3 separate regions of the Homo sapiens genome follow, and all the other regions are linked to region 1. The links come from fine-mapping of genetic effects on gene expression. A gene starts in region 1. Each other region holds a variant in brackets. All regions are shown on one strand. Distances are from middle to middle. Region 1 holds the start of CDCA7L (cell division cycle associated 7 like). Region 2 overlaps DNAH11 (dynein axonemal heavy chain 11). Region 3 overlaps DNAH11 (dynein axonemal heavy chain 11).

Region 1 (2,852 bases):
GCAGGGTGGCAGGGATCTCTTAATGTATTTTCTTAGATTCTGTTTCCTTATTTTAAAAATGTGGACAATAAGGATCTGGAAGGATATTGAGAGGATTCAAGGAGATACTGCATGTGAAGGAAAACTCTAAAGCATAATAAAAATGAAGTGGCCATAATGAATAAATAACATTATCCAATAAAAACAAAACATTTTAAGTCACACAATGTTGTATTGGTTTTACTACCACCAGGAAGTGAGAACACTGAGGGCTGGAACATGAAAGCACATAACACATGTTGTTTGCTGAACTAACCAAAGGAAGGAAGGAAACCTTTTCCATGTTTTCTCTTCAAGCTTGAGTAAATGTTTGGCAAATTTCATTCACTCGTTCAATAAAGAAAAGATGAACGTCAGATCCTAAGCAGCTGAGAGGGGCTGCAGAAGGTCCTATGCGTACAGGATGCTCTACTGTAAACCTATGACCACGGTTCTAAATAGGTGTGCAACACTGTCCAGCAAACCTGCTGTGATTTCAGGACAACTTCATTTACCATTCTCCCCACTCTCTACTTCAACTCTCCCACAATTTCCACAAACTTAATTCCTCACTCTTCATATCTGAACTCTAAGAAGTATTCCCTGACCTCTATCAGATTGTCTTCCTATTTCACACCACCATTAATACCACTTGCCTTTTTTCTCATGGCATCATCGCTCCAAATTTACATTTATTTGCATCATCATTACATTTGTCATTGATAGTGGTATCAAATTAATATTAATTATAAATCTAATTTATAAAATTTACATCGTTATTACACTTATTTGCATCATTATTGTATTTATTTAGAATAATGCAATTAGGTTGGTAACTGGCTCTCAGGCTGTAAACTCCAACAGAGCAGGGGCCTGTTTTTGTTCACCCTTCTGTTCCTAGGACTAGCCCAGTGCCTGATGCTTAGTAGATGCCGGGGTCAATTCTGTTAAATTAGTCAGCATTCCTGACCTCTACAAACTCTTTGTCTGGTGGGTGTGGAGGCCTACTGTGTAATGGCCGTCTAAAGTTTCAGGCGGGTTTGCATCTGTCCACCTGGGCCTTGGTAAAGAAACCTGGGTTGCCTGTTCTGCAAAGTGAACCCTGTAGCAAATGTTTTGGGAGACAGAATCTTCCCAAAGAGAACCCTGCCCCGTTACAACAACAAAACAAAACAAGCCCCAAAGCCGCCCTACAATATTTGCCTGGATCAGAGACAGGGGTTGCAGCAGAAGCTCGCGCCCCAGGGCATGACCTGGAATAAACCCTGCCAAGTATCCAGCGCGCGTGCCAGCTGGAGGCTGCGCCGGGACAGCCCCCTCATTTCTCCCGCGCTAAACCCCGCCGGACGGCTCCACTCCCTCCCTCTGCTGCAGGGGGGAGCCCGGCGCCCTAACACTGGTAATTGCTCTTGCCGCGCCCAACTGCAGCCCCCTCTCGCGCCGCCTGCGAAGACAAGGTCAGTGGCCGCGAAGTTGGAACGTGATCGGAGCCACGAGGCCCAGTGAGGCGGCACCGAGGGGGCAGCGCAACGCGCTCCCCCTGTCCAGGGCGTCAAGTGCGCCCCTCCCGGGGCCCGCCTGTGCTCCGGGCGGAGCGCGCTAGCTGCTCGGGCGCGGGGCGTTCTTGGTGCGCCGGGCCGTGGTGAGTCCGGGCTCCCGTGGCCGCGTGCTGGGAGGAGACTGGAGCCCGGTTAGGAAGAATGGAGTTGGCGACTCGCTACCAGGTGAGGGTCCGGCCGCCCGCCGCCGTCCGGACGCACCCACAGTTTGACTTCCCTTTGCCACCCGGTCCTGCTGGCCTTGGGCTGGAAACGTGGCCCTTGGCTGCGGCACTGGGGATCTGGCGCGCCCAGCCGGTTGAGTGCCGGAGTGGGCGCGCCCTGCAGGTGTGCGCAGTGGGTCACGTTTGTGCTACGCGGACCACAGAGGCCGGTCGCCCCAGCACACAACCGCGCTCAGCCTGGCGCTCTGCTCAGTCTCGGGTGGCCGCCGGGGGTGCAGGCGGGGAGCTAGCGGGGCGCAGCGCCTGCGTTTGCAGCCCTCGTGAGACGGGGGAGGGGCTTTTTTTGTGCACTCCCCACACTTTCTCCGGGAATTGGCACAGAGATCAGGAAGCTTAAGAAAGTTGTAATTTTTTTTTTTTAACAGTCGATCGCCAGACCAGTCCAACTTGGATAATGGAGTTTAAAAATAATAACTTTAGTGTTTATTCTAGAACTTTTGTAAACGTTTTCAAGGAATTAGTAACCATTTGGGGGAAATGGTAACGTCATTGGGCCGAGTTAAACAAGCTGCAAGATCCCAAATCATATGCACAGCACGACCCCAATTACGCGTTAAGGGCCTAACTCGTCTTTAAAACTCATTAGCAAACACTTGAGTAAGTTCCCCCAAACGTTTCAGTGAGTAGTGGGAATGTGAACGTGACTTCAGTTTTCTCTTTTTACTTCTTAAAAGAGCTTTTCTCTACGTTATCGTAATGGAGATACATGTTTACTTAGAAGTAAGCAATAAAAACATTTTTCATAAGAACTAAAAATACAACCTTTAAAAAGGGAAACAAGCAGCCACGCCTCTGCTTGTGGGAGCACGGAGATGCTTTGTGCGAGGATTGTTTTTTTTTTTTTTTCCACTTGTTTTATTGAGAGTCGCGAGACTCACTGCTTCCACCTTGCTTCCGACTGGTGTTTACTTTCCTCCACCTGCGTGCCTGGCCCGGGAGAAGGGGAGGCGGGGCCGCCAGCGTTGGAAGGCGCAGAGTGCCCGGCGCCCGAGCCCAAACCGCTGTCACCTGCCCGAGTCTGGCGGCAAAGACTGAGCCACTAACGGTAGCT
Region 2 (2,827 bases), 44 kb after region 1:
CCTCTGATTTGTTTTGTTTTTCCTGGGCCAGGCTGAGAGGGAGGTGGAGATTGCAGTATAGAGTGCTCTCTGTGTGCCTGGCACTGTGCAAGCTGTCGCTCACTCTGTTACCATAAATTTGTTTAATCCCATGAAATAGGTGTATAACCTCTCTCAGCTCCCTCGGTAAAATGAGACATAGTATCATGGTGAGTAGGCACGACCTTGAGCCTGGGGCAGTCCTGCTCCCGAGTGTGACCTCTTAGGCAGCAGTCATGGGGTAAATATATGGTCCTCAACTGACAGACAAACAAACTGCTGCTCAGGTTAGTCATTCAACAATAAGCACACATTGAAAGGGCTGAAATTCATACCTTGATATTTTGGAAACCTTGTGCTCCTAAACCAGGGCTGACATCCTGGGCCTGTGACCTGCATGCTCGCACAGGGCCCTGTGCTTGGCCAAATGCTTGTGAAAATCTCCATAATTTTTAAGCAAGGAGCCCTAAAAGGTGTCATTTTTCAGTGTTTGCATGTGACGTGGGGTGATTCAGCCTTCCTGCCTTGTGAGGAGCCCCCTGGGACGTAGACTGAAAGATGCCATGTGATTAAAGGTTGGAGGAGAGGCCAGCTGAGCCATTCTGGATCCGAATCCCAGTTCTTGCCAGACCCTGTAGATAATGAGCGAAGTGTCTGCTGTCATCTCTCTGTTAGGATTGGGTGTGTCCCCCCTGTCGTGGGATCTGCAATTGCAGCTACTGTCGGAAGCGTGACGGCCGCTGTGCCACAGGAATCCTCATTCATCTGGCCAAGTTTTATGGTTATGACAATGTTAAGGAATATCTGGAGAGGTAAGTAAGTCTCTAGCAGCTTACAAAACAGCTTGAAATCTTGAGGCTGAGCACAGGAGACCCTCTGGGCAAGTAGTTGTTGCCTTCCCGTGTGACTTACTTACTTATATAAACCACGAGTACCATCCATTCTGTATCTGTTTGCATTGGAAAAGCTCAGGCCTGATATTTTCCCTATTAGGGAATCTTCTCCTTTGCTAGATTTTTCAACTCAACTCCACGTTGCCTTTAACCAAAATTTCTCCTTGAGGTGTATGACAGAAATGGAAGGAACAAACAAACAAGGCAGGCTGAGGGGAAAGACACAGATTATGAAGAGGCAGCCATAATCCTAGTGCAGAGAGAGAGTTCAGGGCAAGAGGACAGAATGTGAGTTACAAGTTTCATTTATGTAATTAATAAACTCTGAATCGTGGTTCTGGAATGCGGGAGTGAGGCAAGTCATGCTTGGGGCGTACTACACCAGAGGGTATACGGATATTGATGCATAAATTGTCAGGATTTCGAGTGTCAGGAGATCTGGGTTCTGGCTTTGTACTCTTAGATGATTGTGGAATCTCTCAAGCCTAGAATGCCATTTGTGTATTTGTACTACTTTACCAAATACTTCTCATCTTTTTCCCAGCTTACAAAAGGAGCTGGTAGAAGACAATTAAGAGGAAAACAAACAGAACCAGCCACCTCACCATAGAGTACTCCAACAAGACATGCATACCATTGGTGCCTAAGA[AAGAT/T]TTTTTTACAGTTGTGTTTTTATACAGAAATTCTTTGTAGAAATTACTATTTTTTGTTAAAGATTGTTTATATGCTTACAAAGATTTCTCAGGAAGACAGCAGAGCAGAGGAATCTATATAGATGTATGCACAGACCTGTCTGTATGCTGAACTTTGTTAAAAATATCTGCCAGTTATTAAAAAGCACAGTTTAAATGGGGTGGGGTTAAAGTTCAGGTAAGTAAGTTAGAGAGAAAACATTGTATGATCAGCTCCTGCACTTGATCTATCTATCTTTGGCTTCCCAAACAGTAACTCACTCCAGGCCAAGTGTGCCTTAGCACGAGTGACCACAGTTTAATAGACCACACACATCGTTTAACCTGCTCTTGGTCATTGGAAATTTACACTGAACAAAGTGCAATTAACTGTAGAACAGTTTTATTTTTATTAAAACTTGACTGAACAAAAGGGGACCATCAACATTGTAGACACTGGACACTGGAGGCCTTACAGAGTGCTAGCCTCTTCCTTCAGGACTCACCTGGGGCCTGCTGCTTTTATATTTTGAAAGAGTTTAAGGGCTAATAATTTAATTTGTTGTTTGTTAAAAATTAAAATCTCCGTTCTTTCCGGCTGCATTGCTTTTGCATGTTCACATATGATGTACTTTTATGATGTACTTTTTTTTTTTTGAGATGGAGTCTTGTTCTGTTGCCCAGGAGGGAGTGCAGTGGTGCAACCTCGGCTCACTGCAACCTTTGCCTCCTAGGTTCAAGTGATTCTCCTACCTCCTGAGTAACTGGGATTACAGTCGTGTGCCACCACGCTCAGCCCTGAGTTAGTTTCTAGTATTTTTTTCTGACTTTCACTCTAAGGATAGCGTTGAAAAAAGAATGCACGTGTGAGTTACTAAAAAGTTAGAATAATGTGCATGGGAACAGTGCAGCAACATGCTAGAAAATCCTCACTGCACTCCAGCAGAGGCTAGAGGAATGCCAGTGTTACCTTACGCTTCTAGAAGCAGAGCCACTCCAGCCAGAACCCATTTTGCAGTCTTCTCTTCGCTCTTCAGCCTGAAGGTCCAGATGTAGCTGGGGCCTCTCAGTTTGGTTCTATACACAGGGCACTCGTAGGTCTGTTTGGTTTCTTGTCTGTCCACGGGGGTGGCTTTTGCAAAGATGACCGGCATAGGGCATGCCAGCTCCTTGAGACGGGCTTCAACAATGGTTCCTGCTTGGGTGTCCCAGCGGGCGCCTATGGCAAAAACACAGCGGTTGCAA
Region 3 (2,500 bases), 58 kb after region 1:
ACAGTTTGGTGGTACTTGCAAATGATAAACATAGAGTTATCACTTGGCCCAGCAATTCCACTCCAAGGTACATATCCGAAAGAATTGAAAACATATGTCCACACAAAATTTGTACATAAAAGTTCATAGCAGCATTATTCATAATAGCCAAGAAGGAGAAACAACCCAAATGTCCACTGACAGATGAGATAAACAAAATGTGCTATGTCCATACAATGGAACATTATTCAGACTTAAAAGGAATTGAGTACTGATATATGCTACAGCATGGCTGAAGCTTGAAAACATTATGCCAAGTGAAAGAAGGCTACATATTGTATGAGTCCATTTTTAAAAATGCCCAGAACATGCAAATCTATAGAGACAGAAAATAGATTAGTAGCTGCCATGGGCTGGGGTATAGGGGAATATGGGGTGGGAAACAAATGGTGCCTGACTGCTAATGGCTGCAGGGTTTTTTTTTTTGGGTGGGTGGGGCGTGGGTAATAAACTGTTCTAAAACTTGTAATGGTTGCAGAATATACTAAAGACCTTTGAGTTGTATAATTTAAATTGGTAAATGTTACAGTGTGCAAATTATATCTTAGTAAAACCTTTTTTAAAAACAAAAAGAATCGATAGAATCATGCTCAGGCAGAAAGAACCTCCACATCATGAAAATATAATCAAAAATTTGGATGATATTTTCGGCCAGGCATGGTGGCTCATGCCTGTAATCCCAGCACTTTGGGAGGCCGAGGTGGGCAGATCATGAGGTCAGGAGTTCAAGACCAGCCTGACTAACATGGTGAAACCCCATCTCTACTAAAAATACGAAAATTAGCCCAGCGTGGTGGCACATGCCTGTAATCCCAGCTACTCAGGAGGCTGAGACAGGAGAATGACTTGAATCTGGAAGGTGGAGGTTGCAGTGAGCCGAGATCACACCACTGCACTCCAGCCTGGGCGACAGAACAAGGCTCTGTCTCAAAAAGAAAGAAAAAAAAAATTGAAATCATCTTTGTTGAAATCAGG[G/T]GCAGGCACAGTTATTAGAAACTGGAGAACCAGCATCCAGCCCACTATGTTGGACTCCATGAGATTATTGTCTTTTTTATATTTTCCTTTCTGGTATTTAACAAAAACCGACCCCCACTCCACTGCCTCTCCAAGTAGTGTTGGTAATGACAAGAAGCTCCAGTTCATTGTGAATTTAAACAAATGCATTTGCCCTTGGCCTTCTGGGTCAAAAATGCCATGGCCCCAAAGTGCTGTTAGGGATTTTTAGACATTACTCAAGATTGAATTATCATGGTGTCTTGAGAATGAAAAGGTACATTGGTGATTTTCTAGGCAATACCTTAATTTTATAAATGAATGAAGTGAGGCACAGGGAAGCCATGCACAAAGCCAGACAGCAAGTCAGTAGCAGAACCAGAACTCTGGTCTCCCGTATTGCCCGTGTTGTTCTCAGTGTTGGCCTGTACACCATCTACATACAAATACGAGTCATTGTTTTGGTGACCTGTGCTGCAAACAGCTCAGCACTCCAGCCAGGGCAGTATGGTGCAGAGAAAGACCAGCCTTTGGAGTCTGATTACGAGTTTAAATTCTGGTTCAGCTGCTTGACCTCTCTAAGCCTGAGGTTCTTTTTTGATTAAATGGAATAATACTTACTCTTCCAGATTATAGTGAGAAGAAATCATACATATAAAGTGTGTGGTAATGACCCTTGGCACAGAGCAGGTATTTACTAAAGGATTCCCATTGTTATCACAGATTAATGTATAGCCAAATATTAAATATATATAATGAAAATGTATACTTTATAATAAAAAGATTTCCCATTTATTAAGCATATTGTTCTAGCATTGTACCAAAGTTTAAACCTGACAGCAAACCTGTAAGTTGATCATTCTGGTTTTGTAGATTATGAAACCAAGGCTAAGAGAGGGTCAATTACATCATACGGCAAATACATAGAGGTACTTCAGTGTGAACCCAGGTGTTTTTTGTCTTTGTTTTTTACTTCAAACCCCAGATTCTTGTTATTCTATATTACTAAAATAGTTTGTATTATATGATAACTTTAAGGTGACCTGGTACCTTATTCTCTGAAAGTGATTTACTGTATTTCTTAATTAACGCTGCCAAATACATGCTTTATGTGAGAAGATGTTTTCTTTCTTGACTTTGGCCAGAGACCCTCTAAAGCCCACTGGAGAACTCTCTCTGAGAGCAAACTCATTTATTCAACAAGAAACTCACTGATCCTCCTAACAGCAAGATATCACTGAAAGCATTCTGATTCTTTGGATAAGAGCAGCAGAACTTTAAACCCCACACCATGAATGGGTTGCTTTTTGATCATGTTCCAATGCAACCAAAGACACTAATTTCCAAATATGTTAACCACTTGTGGGAAGTGGCAAAAAGATGTCCTGCAGATGAAGTGTTAGATCATGTTGCTAATCATATAAACAGCATAAACAGGAGAAACGTGCATGAGAACAAAATAACTGGG

Evidence for each region. PIP is the estimated chance that this variant, and not a neighbour inherited with it, causes the effect.
Region 2: its variant is fine-mapped to the expression of CDCA7L in esophagus muscle (GTEx, PIP 0.93).
Region 3: its variant is fine-mapped to the expression of CDCA7L in blood mononuclear cells (TOPMed, PIP above 0.99).

Annotation. Positions count from the first base shown.
Region 1 is chr7:21,944,671-21,947,522 of GRCh38, reverse strand. It overlaps CDCA7L (cell division cycle associated 7 like), which reads left to right and starts at 1,624. Exons shown (of 10, transcript NM_018719.5): 1 at 1,624-1,742. The coding sequence starts at 1,719. RefSeq lists enhancers at 1,026-1,275, 960-1,670, 1,666-1,815 and a silencer at 1,956-2,005.
Region 2 is chr7:21,900,981-21,903,807 of GRCh38, reverse strand. DNAH11 (dynein axonemal heavy chain 11) reads right to left here. Exons shown (of 82, transcript NM_001277115.2): 82 at 1,969-2,801. The coding sequence ends at 2,554. CDCA7L (cell division cycle associated 7 like) reads left to right here. Exons shown (of 10, transcript NM_018719.5): 9 at 694-830; 10 at 1,456-2,827. The coding sequence ends at 1,486. Among named protein-coding and RNA genes, the nearest start is that of CDCA7L, 44 kb to the left of the region's middle. The variant AAGAT/T (reference allele first, on the strand shown) is at 1,561.
Region 3 is chr7:21,886,976-21,889,475 of GRCh38, reverse strand. The region is part of intron 76 of DNAH11 (dynein axonemal heavy chain 11); the gene reads right to left. Among named protein-coding and RNA genes, the nearest start is that of CDCA7L, 58 kb to the left of the region's middle. The variant G/T (reference allele first, on the strand shown) is at 1,015.